Linked DNA regions of Homo sapiens: region 2 is linked to region 1. Evidence: fine-mapped expression QTL. Tissue or cell type: cerebellum. Region 1 holds a variant in brackets; the other region holds the start of a gene. All regions are shown on one strand. Distances are between the middles of the regions.

What was found. PIP is the estimated chance that this variant, and not a neighbour inherited with it, causes the effect.
Region 2: it holds the start of DPYSL5, and the variant in region 1 is fine-mapped to the expression of DPYSL5 in cerebellum (GTEx, PIP 0.94).

The regions. Positions count from the first base shown.
Region 1 is chr2:26,813,751-26,821,852 of GRCh38, reverse strand. No RefSeq gene overlaps it. Among named protein-coding and RNA genes, the nearest start is that of DPYSL5, 30 kb to the left of the region's middle. The variant C/T (reference allele first, on the strand shown) is at 4,929.
Region 2 is chr2:26,844,801-26,852,902 of GRCh38, reverse strand. DPYSL5 (dihydropyrimidinase like 5) reads right to left here and starts at 4,771. Exons shown (of 13, transcript NM_020134.4): 1 at 4,649-4,771.

The DNA of each region.
Region 1 (8,102 bases):
GCACTTTGGGTGGCCAAGGCAGGAGGATTGTTTGAACCTATGAGTTTGAGACCAGCTTAGGCAACATAGTGAGACCCTGTCTCAACAAAATATACAAAAATTAGCCAGGTGTGGAGGTGAGTGCCTGTAGTCCCAGCTACTTGGGAGACTGAGGTGGGAGCATTGCTTGAGCCTGGGAGGTTAGGACTGCAGTGAGCCGTGATCATGCCACTTCACTACAGCCCGGCAGACAGAGCAAGACCTAATAAATCAACAAATTAATTAATTGAGTCTTTGATTCCCAATGAAAACCTAAAGACAGAAGTTAATTTTCTGGCCTTAGATGCTAATACTATATGGCTCTGGATTTGCAAAGCAAACAGAAAGAGGCTTATGTGATTAACATTCTTGTTGCACCCATGTAAATAATTAGCACATATCTAGTGAGACTGGTGTTTTGTGTATTGCCATCAAGAAAAGTTTTGGAGATTATGATGATCAAAAAGAGGGCAAGGGAAGTCAGGAAAATTGTAGAAAATGTTTTACCGGACAAAAAGATTACTGGGTATCTATTGTTACATTAAGTTAACCCTAAAGCTCCCTCCTTACATATTTTAAGTTCGGCCTAAGCGTTTCTCCATAGATAGTAAACTCCAGCCAAACTGGATGTGTAAAGAGACTGTAACCTACTCGTGTGCCAATCACAGAGTTTCAGCCAATCACAGGTGGCCAACTATTCAAACCATGCTCAAATAAGGCAAACGTTGAGCTGTAACCAATCAGCTGTTTCCGTGCCTCACTTTCATTTTCTGTACATCACTTTCTGTTTTTGGTCCATAAATATGGCAGCCCTGGAGTCTCTCTGAACCTATTCTTGTTTGGGGGGACTCATGATTAGTGAATCATTCTTTGCTCGGTTAAATGCTATTCAATTTAATTTGTCTTCAGTTTTTCTTTAACACTTTTTTTTTTTTTTTTTTTTGGACAGAGTCTAGCTCTGCTGCCCAGCTGGAGTGCAGTGGCGCGATCTCGGCTCACTGCAACCTCTGCCTCCTGGGTTCAAGTGATTCTTGTCCCTCAGCCTCCCGAGTAGCTGGGATTACAGGTACACACCACCACACCCAGCTAATTTTTTTGTATTTTCAGTAGAGACAGGGTTTCACCATGTTGGCCGGGATGGTCTCAATCTCCTGACCTCGTGATCCGCCCGCCTTGGTCTCCCAAAGTGCTGGGATTACAGGCGTGAGCCACCGTGCCCAGCCTCTTTAACACTCTTATGGGTTAAATTGTGTCACTCCCCAAAGTGACATATATTGAAGTCCTAACCCTCAGTACTGTGAATGTGACCTTATTTGGAAATAGGGTCTTTGCAGATTTAATCAAGTTAAGATGAGGTCATTAGAATGAGCCTTTATCCAATATGACCGATGTCCTAGTAAGTGGGAAATCTGGACATGGGGAGAATGCCACGTGTCTATGGAGGCAGAGATTGCAGTGATGCATCTACAAGCCAGAGAAGCCAAGAATTGCCAGAAACCAGCAGGAGCCAGAAGAGGCAAAGAAGGAGGCTTCCCTGGAGCCTAGAGCGAGCCAAGCCCTGCCAACACCTTGATTTTGCACTTCTAGCCTCCAAAATTTTGAGACAAATTTCTGTTGTTTTAAACACCCAGTTCAGGTGAGGTGGCTCATGCCTATAATCCCAGCACTTTAGGAGGCTGAGGTAGGATGTCTTGAGCCCCGGAGTTTGAGACCTGCCTAGGCAACATACTGAGACCCTGTCTCTACAAAAAATACTAACCAACCAACCCATTCTGTGTTGTGATTCTCAGACCTAGAAAATGAATACATATCTTTTCTGTGGAAAGCAAGGCTTAGACTTTACCGGGTTATCTGATTCTATATGGTCTGCACCTTTCATTGTCTGTGATTGCAAATTATTCCAGCTTATAAACATGTAAATACATTTCCCATTAAAGATGCAATTCATTTCATTCAGTGAAAGAGGCCATCTCTTAGTAATTCATTTCCGCATTCCTGGTCATCTACATACGTGTTTGTTTTTTTGGATTCTCCGCGGAAACAGTTTTTATATCTTACTGGTTCTCTCAGTAGTTAACGAGTTAAATAAAGTCTTTAAGATGTGTTCATTTTGTATTAGTATGAGTCATGATTTTACCTTTCTGGAAAAAAATTAGCAATAGGTATAGAGAGTCAAGGGATATTATCATCATCATATATTTTTTGAGACGGAGTCTCGCTCTGTCACCAGTCTGGAGTGCAGTGGCGCGATCTCGGCTCACTGCAACCTCTGCCTCCCAGGTTCAAGCGATTCTTCTGCCTCAGCCTCCCCGAGTAGCTGGGACTACAGGCACGAGTCACTACACCCAGCTAATTTTTGTATTGTTAGTAGAGACGGGGTTTCACTATGTTGGACATGCTGTTCTCGAACTCCTGACCTCATGATCCACCTGCCTTGGCCTCCCAAAGTTCTGGAATTACAAGCGTGAGCCACCACGCCCAGCCAAGGAATATTATTTTGAAAAGTCTGCTCCAATTTCTCGGTTCTTTCCCAGGTCAGTCAACCAGGGCATTCTCTATTCACTGCCCCATAAAAGAGATGAATATGGCTGGGCATGGTCTAGCTGCGCCCCTGGGGAGAGCAGAAAGAACTCAGGCATAATCAATAGATTTGGCAGAATATGAGTCTGAGCAAGTCCTCATGCTTGGCACTAGATAAAGGCTTCCAGGTGTGGGTGGAGGAGAGCAAGAGCAGGAGGGAGGAGCGTGCAGCAGCACAGCTCATGTGGATACTAAAGCAAGGGTGCCCTGTGCCTTTCCCCAGCCCAAGCCCAGCTGTCAGGGTGGGACGATAGACTGTCTCATCACAATAAGCCAATTTACAGCAGAGGGTCCTTGCTGTTGCACTGTGTAAGACCCCAAAATTTAGATACACCCCACAGAAGAATCACAACTCCCTGAGATTAATTTGCCATAACTACTCCCACTCCAGCTGAGCACTTGGAATAAAAATCATGTATCGATAGAAAAACCAAGTTTGTAGATTTAGATTCTGCTCCCTTACAATATCTCACTTGTATTCAGGTATCGTAATTTATTTTTCTATTTCTTAATCTAGTGCACATTTGTCAGTCTCTTTAGCTTCTCAGCATCCCAATTCCCTTCTAGTGGAAGCCTCCCACTGTAGTTGCTGAAAGCCCCACGTCAGTTTTCCTGACTCTCTTGTCACTAGCTTACAGGCATGGGATCCAGTCCCTGCCCATCACATGCACCCACACCAGGCTTGGAACTAGGAGCTGGGGGTGCAAAAGCAGAGGCCCTGGAGGAACCCAGTCTGGCAGAGGCAGAGGCTTCAGCAAGATGGCACATCCCTGAGCAGCTGGTGGCCGTGGGGCTGGTGGTGATACGCAGTGTTTGGCGCCTGTAGGATTGGAGGTGCACACTGTAGAAGTGAGTCCACTGCCCCAGTCCTGCCCAGGCTTTCAGGCACCCGCTCTTCCTGGCTACACCACCTAAAGCCATATCCTGTCCTTTTAATAAAACCCTTTCCTGTCTACCTTAGCAATGATTTCTGTTGCTTCCAATTAAGAACTCAGATTATTTCCGGACTTTCAAGTTGTTTGCATTTTTTTGCTATTATAAACAATCTGGAACAAACATTTTTGAATATCCATCTTAGTATCCTTGTCTAATTTCCTTAAGGGAAATCTGATGACAGAATTGTTGGGTACTCATATTTTTAAGGGTTTTGGTATAGAAAATGTTACATTACATTCCCACTTACAGCCTGTAAATACGCCTGTTCTCCCTGTACCTTTGTATTATTCCACAGTGCATCTTAATAAGGCTTATGTGCTCGTGTGCGTGTGTGTGTACACACATGAACCCAGACCAGTTGAAATCTACGTCCCTTTCCCCTCTTGCCATCATTATGAAGCCAGGTTAATATCTTTATCCATGCACCCCAGACCCCACAGAACAATGGGTAACTGTAATTGAAGTAGAATATTCTTCATTATGTGGTTTGGAGCTACTCTCAGCTCAAATTCACTAAAATAATGAAACTGGAGCATGAAATGAAGAAAAGGAAACAAGTCATGAAGAAAACCTCCGTAAGGCCGGGCGCGGTGGCTCATGCCTGTAATCCCAGCACTTTGGGAGACTGAGGCAGGCAGATCACGAGGTCAGATGATCGAAACCAGCCTGGCCAACATAGTGAAACCCCGTCTCTACTGAAAATACAAAACAAAAAATTAGCTGGGCGTGGTGGCGTGTGCCTGTAATCCCAGCTACTTGGGAGGCTGAGGAACAAGAATTGCTTGAACACGGGAGGTGGAGGATGCAGTAAGCCGAGATCGCGTCACTGCACTCCAGCCTGGCAACAGAGCGAGACTCCATCTCGGGGGGGGGGGGGGGGGAAAAAAAGGAAAAAAAAACCCTCTGTAAAACTCTGACCAGGGGCGAATCCTGTCTTGTCTTCTTCATGTCCAGGGGGAATTTTATTGATTAGCCAGTTACCAATAATGAATTCAAAGAAACTCCCGTTCAAATCATATTTGAGATGACTCTTGAATCTCCTGGACATAGAAAAAACAATTTGCAATGCACGATTCTGTATAAAGTGACCTGTGGGTCAGAGCCCTGGGGCACCTGTTGGGCATGAGAAGGGAAATGAGGCCACTGTGGCAGAAGCTCAGACCTACGGCAGAGCTGGAAGGTGAGAAGGGGAGGGAGCCTGGGCCTGGCTGAGTTCCTGAAAGCACTAGGGTGGAGGGAAATAGCCAGCTCCTCCCATGGGAGGGGCTGCAGGGCTCAGCCTGTGCCTAGGAGAGAGGCCAGCCCATCCTGCCCCTAGCCCTGCATCACTAGGGAGGAGGCGGTTCTTCTCTGCTTCCAGTATGAAGGCTTGGCTGCCACCTGAGATGATGTTG[C/T]TTCTCAGGCAAGTAATTCTAAATCCCCCCACCCCCTTGGCATTAAATGGATTTTCACTGTTGTCACATGCTCTCCCCTTATCAGAGGCTCAGGAACTCTTTAGACACTATAGCTTCCCTCTTCTGGTTGGCCCCTCTACGTACATTAGAGTGATTTCAGAACACTTGAGACCATCCTCTGTCCCCTCCCCTATGTGACTGATGCTTGAAGTAACACAAGCTCTTTAGGACTAAGGCTTATGACTCCTCTAACCTGCCCCTCAAAATATTATAGCAGTTTAAAAAGTACAGTCATTTACTCGAGTATAAATGCGCCACTAATCTAGATAAAGGAAAAAGGTGAGGAACCCCCCAGACCAAAAGGAAAAGGAAAGACAATAGAAGACTCAGGCCAGGAGCGGTGGCTGTCCTCCCAGCTACTTGGGAGGCTGAGGTGGGAAGATCGCTTGAGCCCAGGAGTTCAAGGCTGCAGTCAGCTATGATGGGGCTGCTGCACTCCAACCTGGATGACAGAGTGAGACCCTGCCTCAAAAAAAAAAAAAAAAAAAGAGAGAGACAGGAGAGAGAATAGAATAGAGCAGTTTGGGAGGCCAAGGAGGGCAGATCATCTGAGGTCAGGAGTTTCAGACCAGCCTGGCCAACATGGTGAAACCCTGTTTCTACTAAAAATACAAAAATTAGGCGGGCATGGTGGCGTGCGCCTGTAATCGCAGATACTTGGGAGGCGGAGGCAGGAGAATTGCTTGAACCTGGGAGGCGGAGGTTGCAGTGAGCTGAGATCGCGCCACTGCACTCCAGCCTGGGCGACAGACCGACACTCTGTCTCAGAGAAAAAAAAAAAAGAATAGAAATATAAGGCTCACTAGTGTCCATGCTTCCTTTAATAATATAGGTGTTCTCTCCTGGGGCTTCTCAGACAGGACCCATTTTGTTTTCATTTGTAACACCGCTGTTTTCTTCTAAACCCCAGATTCAAATCTGTCTTTAGATAACCACTCTAATTCTGGTCTTCACTTCTGAAACACGCACACACGTAAAGAAACAACAAACAAAAAAAACTCCCCCCACCCCGCCGCAATTCTCTACTCAGTCCAGCTGCTCCCTCACTGCCCTTGGGCCTGGCAGGCGCCCCCGCCCCGGCGCCCCCCACCCGGCGGCCCCCCCGCCTCCCGCTCTGCCTGTGCACTTCCTTCTCCTTCCAATCAGGAAAGTAGAAAAGTGGGCCTCACCTCCTCCGACTTGCTAAAGCTGGGTGGGATTGTTTCTGTTTTTTTTTTTTTTTTTTTTTTTTTTTTTTGAGACGGAGTCTCGCTCTGTCGCCCAGGCTGGAGGGCAGTTGCGTCCGGAATTGGTGGGTTCTTGGTCTCACTTCAAGAATGAAGCCGCGGACCCTCACGGTGATTGCTACAGTTCTTAAAAGACGCGTATCTGGAGTTTGTTATTTCTCATGTTCGGATGTGTTCGAAGTTTCTTTCTTCCGGTGGGTTCGTGGTCTCGGCAGCTCAGGAGTGAACCTGCAGATCTTCGCGGTGGGTGTTACAGCTTTTAAGGCGGTGCTTCTGGAGTTGTTCGTTCCTCCTGGTGGGTTCGTGGTCTCGATGGCTTCAGCTGTGAAGCTACAGACCTTCGCGGTGAGTCTCACAACTCATAAAGGCAGCGTGAACCCAGAGTGAGTAGCACCAAGAGTCATTGCAAAGAGCGAAAGAACGAAGTCTTCACACCATGGAAGATCAACCCCACCGCGTTACCACTGCTACCTCCCGCAGCCTGCTTTTATTCCCTTATCTGGCCCCACCCACATCCTGCTGATTGGTCCATTTTACAGAGAGCCGACTGGTCGGTTTTACAGAGAGCTGATTGGTCCGTTTTGACAGGGTGCTGATTGGTGCGTTTACAATCCCTGAGCTAGACACAAAAGTTCTCCAAGTCCCCACCAGAGTAGCTAGATACAGAGTGTCGATTGGTGCATTCACAAACCCTGAGCTAGACACAGGGTGCTGATTGGTGTGTTTACAAACCTTGAGGTAGATACAGAGTGCCGATTGGTGTATTTACAATCCCTTAGCTAGACATAAAGGTTCTCCAAGTCCCCGCCAGACTCAGGAGCCCAGCTGGCTTCACCCAGTGGATCCCGCACCAGGGCTGCAGGTGGAGCTGCCTGCCAGTCCCGGGCCGTGCGCCCTCACTCGTCAGCCCCTGGGTGGTCGATGGGCGGGGGGAGGCTCAGGCATGGCGGGCTGCAGGTCCCGAGCCCTGCCCCGCGGGAAGGCAGCTAAGGCCCGGTGACAAATTGAACACAGCAGCTGCTGGCCCAGGTGCTAAGCCCCTCACAGCCCGGCGCCGGCAGGGCCGGCCGGCCACTCTGAATGCTGGGCCCACCGAGCCCACGCCTACCCGGAACTCGCTCTGGCCCGCAGCACCGCGCGCAGCCCCGGTTCCCGCCCGCGCCTCTCCCTCCACACCTCCCCGCAAGCTGAGGGAGCCAGCTCCGGCCTTGGCCAGCCCAGAAAGGGGCTCCCACAGTGCAGCGGTGGGCTGAAGAGCCCCTCAAGTGCCACCAAAGTGGGAGCCCAAGCAGAGGAGGCGCGGAGAGCGAGCCAGGGCTGCGAGGACTGCCAGCACGCTGTCACCTCTCACAGTGGCCTGATCTCCACTCACTGCAAGCTCCGCCTCCCGGGTTCCAGCCGTTCTCCTGCGTCAGCCTCCCGAGTAGGTGGGTTTACAGGTGCCCGCCACCGCGCCCGGCTAATTTTTTGTGTTTTTAGTAGAGACGGGGTTTCACCGCGTTAGCCAGTATGGTCTCGATCTCCTGACCTCGTGATCCGCCCACCTCGGCCTCCCAAAATGCTGGGATTACAGACGTGAGCCACCGCGCCCGGCCTGGAATTCTGTTTCTACAGGCGCCTACAGAATCCCACGGTAAACCCTCCGATTAACCCAATAGATGTTTGCGGAGGAGGTGAGTGAGTGAGTGAGTTCCAGCTCTCCCTTTGAGCTGAAGCTATCAGACTTCAGAATCCCTGGCCGGCCATGGATGGTGAAGCCAGTGGCTCAGGAGAAGCGAATTCACAGACTAGCTGGAGGCCAGTCCAGGGCAGATGGCTGTTTCCGTAGAGGGATTTGGTGGGTGTGGCGCCCAAGTTGGGGAGCTGGGGTTATGTTGGGAGGCCAGCA
Region 2 (8,102 bases), 31 kb before region 1:
GGTGATGATAACTTTTACTGAGCACTTACAAGATGCCAGATGCTGCTCTCAGTGCTAACCATTAACACATGTAAGCCTCAGAACAACCCCAGATGTAGATACTGTTAAGTTGGTGCAGAAGTCACGGCAGTTTTTGTCATTAAAAGTAATGGCAAAAACAGCAATTACTTCTGCACCAACCTAATACAACCATCCTCATTGCACAGATAAACAGAAAGTGGCCAAGGTGAAATCTGAACCCAGGCTTTCTGGCTCTCCCTCCTGTACACGCTACCGCTGAGCCTGGATTGTGACGAGGGAGGAGGGAGGCGAGGGAACAAGTACAGAACAGGGCTGTGATTGATGGGAGTGCTTGGCAAGCTCGGGTTCAATCAATGGTTAAATCAGCTTATTTTAAATGAAACAAGTTTCAAAGACTGAAGTAGAACAAATCATACACCATGTTCCTCCCTGAATTTCTTTTGTTCAAGTGTATAATTTGTGCCCACTTTTATACATAAATACCAAAGCTCACAAAAGATTCATGTTATGGTATTTCAACCTTTCATCTTCACATAAAAAAAAGCAAGGCAAAGCGATTTTGAAATTATTTCTCATTTATGCACCAGCAGTGCAATGAAATCAAACACCTGCTTATTGGAAAAATGATAAAACACATTTATTCTTATTTGCTCCCATATTACACCAAGTTTTCCCTACAGGACTTCATGTTGACAAAGATATCTTGTTCTACAGGATTCCTGTGAATTAAGTCTTAGAAGACTTTTCTGGAATATGTTTTTATACCTCAGAAAACAAAAAAGATACACAAGATCAGATTCTATCAGAAACTGGTAAATTTTCACACCAGGAAGATAGACTGGGTCTCAGATACTCTTGTCCAACTTCTCTGGCTCTCAATATTTTTCTATGCCCCAAGAAAATGATCTGAACACACAATTCACATTTTTTTTTTTGAGATAGAGTCTCACTCTGTTGCCCAGGCTGGAGTGCAGTGGCACGATCTCAGCTCACTGCAACCTCGGCCTCCCAGGTTCAAGTGATTCTCCACCTCAGCCTCCTCCCAAGTAGCTGGGACTACAGGTGTGCGCCACCACGTCAGGCTAATTTTTTTGTATTTTTAGTAGAGATGGAGTTTCACCATGTTGGCCAGGCTGGTCTCGAACTCCTGACCTCAAGTGATCCTCCTGTCTCAGCCTCCCAAAGTGTTGGGATTACAGGCGTGATCCACTGTGCCTGGCCACAATTTACTTTTACCCCAGAGACCTGCCTATAGTCATGCTGTCCTTTGGCTTATAGTCCCGTGGAGCTAATGCAGGATCATACAGAATCCTGGGTCAGAGAAGCTATTAAGGGGAAATTCTCAGATAGCTATGGCAGGAGAAGAGACGTGGAAGTGCCACAAATGAAGTTTACGCCAAGTCCTGAGACCTGATTTTGGCCAACTGTGTAAACTTGCCTTGCTGTGGAACTCTTTCCAGAGATAGAAGCATTAAGAATAATGCAACAACCCTGCTAATGTTTGCACCTAGAGAGGTTACGCTGACAACAGCCAGGCCTTCACGTCAGGCTGGTCATACCGGCATTCCTTGTCTATGGATTCCCTGCCATGAGGAACAGACTGCAATGGATGTTCACAGAGTGCTTTAAGAAGATTACATCCTTTTAAAAATCCATAAAATTATTACAAAAAAGAAGCCAACAAAACACTCCTTCCTGAAATTGTTCCCTTTGGGTAATAATATGAAAACATGTTTCCCATTGGAGCTCTCTTACAAGAAAAAACCTTCACTGTCAGATTTCTAGGTTTCTAATATTGAGATTCCTAGTATTTATGTACTCTGAATCCATGTTTGTGTGTATGCATAAATACACACATGCATATATAATTTAGTAAAATATAGTATGTGTATATATATATGTGTGTATATACATATTAATATATACATATATATAATTCAGTTAAAATATAGTTAAAAACAACCAATGAGCAATGTTCCAGCTAGTCCTTCCAGATCAGTTTTGTAAATTCTGTGAGGCACCTCCTCAAAACACCATCCTTTAAAACCAGCAAGACATAGCCTACTGCTGACTCCCTATGGCCAGAAAGGACACTCAGACAAGAGGCCTTCACTTTGACAGCTATCATCTGTCCTGGGCAAAAGCCAACAGCCACAGCACAGTCCTTCACCTTACACACTAATCTTGTTAAGAAAGCAAATCCTGAGATTTCAAGGCTGGGTTAAGAGAACCAACAGGTTCTCAGTTAACTTAGTGGCAAATGTAAGTGGCATCAATGAGTTCTACAATGCCAAGTATCGCCCAGTCTGGGAACAAAAACATTCCTGCCTTTTTTTTTAATGAATGGCAATTTAAAATGATAACTTTATGCTAAAGATTCACCTTTAACTTGTCATCTAACCAGTTATCAAAGCAACAGTGCAACACAGAATTCTGGCTTTGGGTGTCACTTCACATGTCAAGGCGCTGCAGCGGTGACTTGCAAGGTGTTTAGACGGCGGGCGAGAGGCTGAGTGCGTGGAAAGCCCTGCTGAAAGCCTGTTTTAAGCTTCCATTCGGTTCATCTGCTTTCCCACGGGCAAGCAGCGCCTATCACAGAGCTACCCCAGTCTTAGGTCAGCAGACAATATGGGCGAAGTCTGCAAGAGACGCACTGGCTTGGGTGTGGTCACTGGCAAAGAAAAGCACTGGACCCCTAGCAGCGGCTCCCAAACCTAGAGCCTCACCCTTGCGGGATCATTTCCACCCGCTTCTCCGCAATTTGACCACAATCCGCACCAGCCCTTACGGCTCCCCCTGAGAAAGCACAGCTGCAGCCCCTAGACTACGGCCGCCTCGGCAGACAAAGCCGCTGCTCGGGGGAACCCGCGCTGCACCGAGGCGACCTCCAGTCTTTGGCACCTGCGTCGCCGCCCGGCAGCTCCGCGCCGCTAACCACGCCGCGTCTCGGCAGCGGGTGGACAGCGCGGGGCGGGCGGCGGCGCTGCACCAGAAGGCACCCGAGCCGGAGTGGGGGGGTGGCTGTCTGCAGGCCCCCAGGCCGGGGGAGCGCCTCCCACACGGGATTCCCGGCGTGGCCAGGCCCCCATAAAACCCCAAAGCCAGCACGTGCCCGGAGGTTCCGCAGGGAGTATTCCCAGCACCAGAAAACTGCACCCTCGCGTCCTGGGTGGCCCTGGTTTGTCGTCGGATGGACACCAGGGTCGGCTATTGTTCTCCGGGTCTCCCCGAAGGGAGATCCGCCTCCCTGGCAGCACCTGCTGCTGGGCAAAGCCTTTCAGCTCCTCGAGAAAAGGGCGTGCCGTGGGCGCCGCGGAAGATCACAAAACCCTAAGCGAGTCGCTACCGGCTGGTTTCAAGCCTGGAGACAAAGCTCCTCACCAAGCCAGCCCAGCCCGGTCCCGGATCTGCCATCCTGGGTCCCTAACCCCGGTCCGAGGGCCACGCCCAGCCGGCCACCTGGGCCGCGGGGCCCCGCGCCTGGAGCTGAGGATCCTCGGGCCCGAGACCGCCTCTCAGCTGCTTGCCCCTCCCTCCTCGGGAGGCTCCCCTTCCCAGGAGGCCCCCCTCCCCCGCACAGCGCGGGTCTTCTCCTCGCTCCCGTCCTCCCTCCTCAAACCCAGGCGGCCTCCACCCGCCTGCATCCCTCCTCCCCTCCCCATTCTTCAGCAGAACCAGCCTCGCCGGGCGCCACCTGCACCGAGCTCCTTCCCTCGTTCTTCGGACCCGCCCCCGCCCCTTCTCTTTCCTCCTCAAACCCTAGTTCCCACTCCCTGCTCCCCGAGACCCACTACCTGTCCTAACCCAGCTCCCCAGCCTTCCCCATCCCCATCTTTTCTCAACCGAGGCCTCCCCTCGCCCTCTCCCGGCTTCTCTCCAGCTCAGACTACAGCCCCGTCCCCAGGCCCGGGGCGTCGACGTCGGTGCCCGCTGAGATCGATGCTGCAAGGCGGGCTCCCGCGCTGGGCTCCAGCCGAGGGACCCGGCTCGGCGCCCGCTCCGGGCTGGGCAGCCGCAGGAGGCCTTTGTGGCTCAGGCGGGAGGCTCGGAGGCGGCGGGCGAGTCCTCTGCAGGCGTCCGCTCCGTTAGCCGGGCGGTGGAACAGACCGCCGGGTCGGGTCCAGGCTGGGCAGATCCCAGCTCGGAGGCGAGAAGGACGGAGGGTGTGTATCTGGGTGGTGTGTGGGACCGGGGACAGCGCAGATCCTGGGACCGGCAGGACTGGCCCCCGGCCAGAGGCGCCCCCGCCCAGCCCTCCAGCGGTCCACTGCACCGCGCCCGGCTAGGAAAGCGGCCCACTGCGTGCTAGGCGCGAAACCCCTCGGCCGAGCCGCCTCCTCACCCCAGGGCTTTGCAACCCCGCGAGCACGCATTAAACGCTTACTATGAGCAAGGCCCGGCACGGCGCTTCGCGGGCGTACAAAGAGGACCCCAAGAGCGCCCCGGCTTAGCCCCGATGGCCACCTCCCAACCCCAAACCACACCTCCCGCCGCGTCCCCTGCGGCCGGGCCCCAGGCTCACCCGGCTCCCCGCCCTTTTGTGCGCCTCACGCAGAAACAGAAGGGGGAGAGGAGGATGTCCTAGCCCGGGAGGGGTAAGCCCACCGACCCCCCTGCCATCACCCACTCCTCCGAGATGCTGCGGCCGCGGGGGCCCGTGGCTCGGTCCGTCTCCGTCTCGCCGCGGCGCCGGAGCTGCGGGTGCTCGGGGCGGCGGCGGCTGCACGCGCGCTCGCTCGGGGGCCGCCTCAGCGCGCCCAGCGCGGGAGTCCAGAGTGGGGAGCGGGGGAGGGGCGCGTGTCGGGGGCTGGGAGCGGCCTCCGCCAATCACCGCGCGGCCGGCTCCTCCCGCCGCTCCCCACCTCAGCTAGCAGGTTAAGGGGAGGCGGGGACAGGCGGCGTCCCGCATCCTTGGCGCCGCGCGCCGCCGCCGCCTGGGGACTACAACTCCCGGCAGGCCCTGCTGCAGGGCCGGGGTCCGAGAGCGGACGGAGGGCGCGGCCGGAGAACTCACCGACCCCCCTAGCACCCGGCTCCGCGTTCCCTCGGGTTTCCATGGCGACTCAGGACACCACAAAGCCTGGACGCGCTGAGGCACGGGTCCCCAGGGAGGGCCGGGGGCGGTTCCGGAGGACACCCCGCCTCCCCTCCCCCAGCTGGATCCCACCCCAGGGGCTGAAACAATGCCGCGGCCGCCTCTCCCGGGCTGCGGCCGCGCTGCCCTCCGCCGCAGGACCCCGCCGAGGCCGCCTGGTTCGCGCCAAGACCCGCTCCGACGCCCGCGGGATTGCGGGATGCAAAGGGCCGGGTGGGCGTTATAGGAAAACTGTTCTCATGAACAAAGTGGACGGCCACTTGGGGCCACCGCAGTTCGCATCTGCACCCGGGGAGGTCTCGAACCCGGAGTGCGTTCTCTCCACTGAGAAGATTTTGCCCAGCGCCACGCGGGTGCTTCCCTGTCCAGAGCGCTCAGGCCCAGTGCCTGTCTTATTTCTGGCTTCTGTCAAGGGACAGCGAAGCCTTTGGAAATTATTTATAACCCAATTTACATTCGCTTCACCTGTTTCTTCATGTTTAAATACATACATAATTTACCAAAATAAACAAATCTAAAAAAGGAGAGGAAGGATCATCCCCGGTTTGTCCCACCTCCCTAGCTAATCCCGGTTCAAGCCTTTGCCATTGATCTGTGTTATTTTCTGCAGTTGTAATAATAGTTTGGATTAGTCATTTGCCTCTTTGCACTTAATGTCACTCCAAAGGCGTTGCGATGCGCGTTAAAATGCAGCATCAAGGACCTCCAAGCTGCAGCTGCAGAATCCCTCCCTCCCCGGGCTCCCCGGCGATCCGGTGGGGAGAGGAGTCCCCTGGCAGCCATGGCCTCGTGAGGTGGTTCTCTTTGCAGGATACTTTCAAACAAAATGGTGTTCACTACTCCGGGGGCGTGGAGGGGGTCCCCTCTCCCCATCTCAGCAAAATCTACCCGGGCGCAGGACCCGCAGAGCCCGCCAAGGCGGGGTTCCCTGCCGTCCTTCCCCAGAGAGCTTAGGGCCTGGACCAGGCCAGGCTGGCCTTTGAGGGATGCATTTCTGGATTACCCCACCCCTGAGTCTGCACTCCTTCTCCCCTTCCCAACTCCCGCCTGCTTGGTAAGCAGAGAGCAGGGAGCCCCCAGAGGAACCTCAAAGCATCCCTAACCCAGTGCAGCCCGGGATGTGGCTGTGAAAACTGCTCCAGCTTGGGGCACTGCCCTATGGATTCTCCAGGGCTTGCCCGGACAGGGATGTAGGCAAAATGGACTGGGCTTCAGGGAGGTGGCGTGGAGCTGCCAGCGGCCTCCCGGCGGCGGGGTTCCGAGACTACCGCGCGCGGGCGGTGCTGCGCTTTTTGCTTAAGGGAGAGAGAGCCCTCTAGTGACTGTAAATGTTTTCTGCAGCGTCTCGTAGACCTTAAATTTGGATTCTAGCATCTTAGCTTTCTTGGGCTACCTTCCCTAGTCAGCGAAACGGCTGCCTCTACGTCATCTGTCAGTTTAGGATATTGATAAAGGTTGCACCCAAACCGGGGGTTGCATATGTCCTCAGTCCTCGACTTCGGTTTGTTGTTGCTAACTTAGGCTCCGTTTCCTGGGAAGTAGAAAGAGCACAGAGCTGGGAGTCCCGCATTGCTGGGTTGGAATCCTTGCTCCTTCAGTTTCTGCCGACTTGACCTTGAGAAAGTGACTTACTCCATCTGACCCTTAGCTCCACCCAGAATACTGGGGTCATATACATTCTTTTAACCTTGTCGTGGAAATTAAATGAAGAAAGGTAGATAAAGGCCATAGCACATTGCCTGGCATAGTGTGCATGCAACAAATGCAGCTATTATTATTTATCCCACAGAAAGTGGTTATTGAACAGTGTGAGGGATATAAGAATATGTGACACTCCCCACAGTAACAGCCACAAAAGGCAATATGTTGTGATTTTTATTATAAAGCTCATATTACTACTCGGTCAGATAAAGTAGAATAAGAATTCAGACGAGAAAGAAAGCAGTTCTGCATAACACTGGGAGATGGAGGAGCTAGAATTTGGATTTCACCTGGATATTGATTTGATGGACAGTTCTAAGCAAAGGTCTGAGATTCTGGGGTGAAGGAGCAAAAGCTTATGGGTGGGGAACCCAAGCGGGTATTTGGAAGACAGCAGAAGAACCCACCATGTCTTGAAAGTCAAGTCCCTGAATGAGGGTGATGGGAAGAGAATGGGGATGGTGAGTTAGGCAGGGGTTGGGGGTCAGACCTCACAAAGCCCAGGGCTACTGGTTTTTATGAGTAAATGTGTTCTGAGTTCCCAACAGCCTTAACAAACTTCAGAATAAATACAAGTTAAAGACCACCATGAAAGGAGGAGGGAGGAAAATCGCACTGTCTGAACTCCTATTATGAGCCCGGGTCTATTTGGTGTTTTACAACACATCATTTAATCCTTGCTACTCCACACAGGAGGTAGCATTGCTCATTTCTTACAAATGAGGCTATCTGGATTTAGAGAGGTTAAACGATTTGCCTGCGAAGTCACACTGCTGTAAGCAGCAGAGCCAGGATTCCAAAGGACATCTGCCTGGTGCAAAGCTGAGCCCTTCCTGCTTCAGCACGTCCTCCCTGCCAGCCTCCAGAAGGCCGGATCTCCAGTGCAGAGAGAGCCTGTGACGGTGAGTGACCCTCAAGGAGAGCCTGTTGCCAAGTCATGGAACCCAGATGTTCCTTCCTCTGCAGCGGCAACCTGTTCCTCCTCGAAGTGCCCCCGGGAAAGGGGCTCTCCAGTATTCCCAGGAGCTTTGTATAATATTAAGTTTCCTCCTCATCCTTCTCTTTTCACCTTTTTTTGCTCCTTATACTTCTCAGTGACAACCCTAGTGTGGGGAACACATTGTGAAGTCTAGTTAGCCATTAAAAAAAAAAAGTGAGGCCAGGTGCAGTAGTTCATGCCTATAATCCCAGCACTTTAGGAGGTCAAGGTGGGAGGATCACAAAGCCCAGGAGTTTGAGATCAGCCTGGGCAATATAATGAGTCCTTGTCTCTGCAAAAAAATTT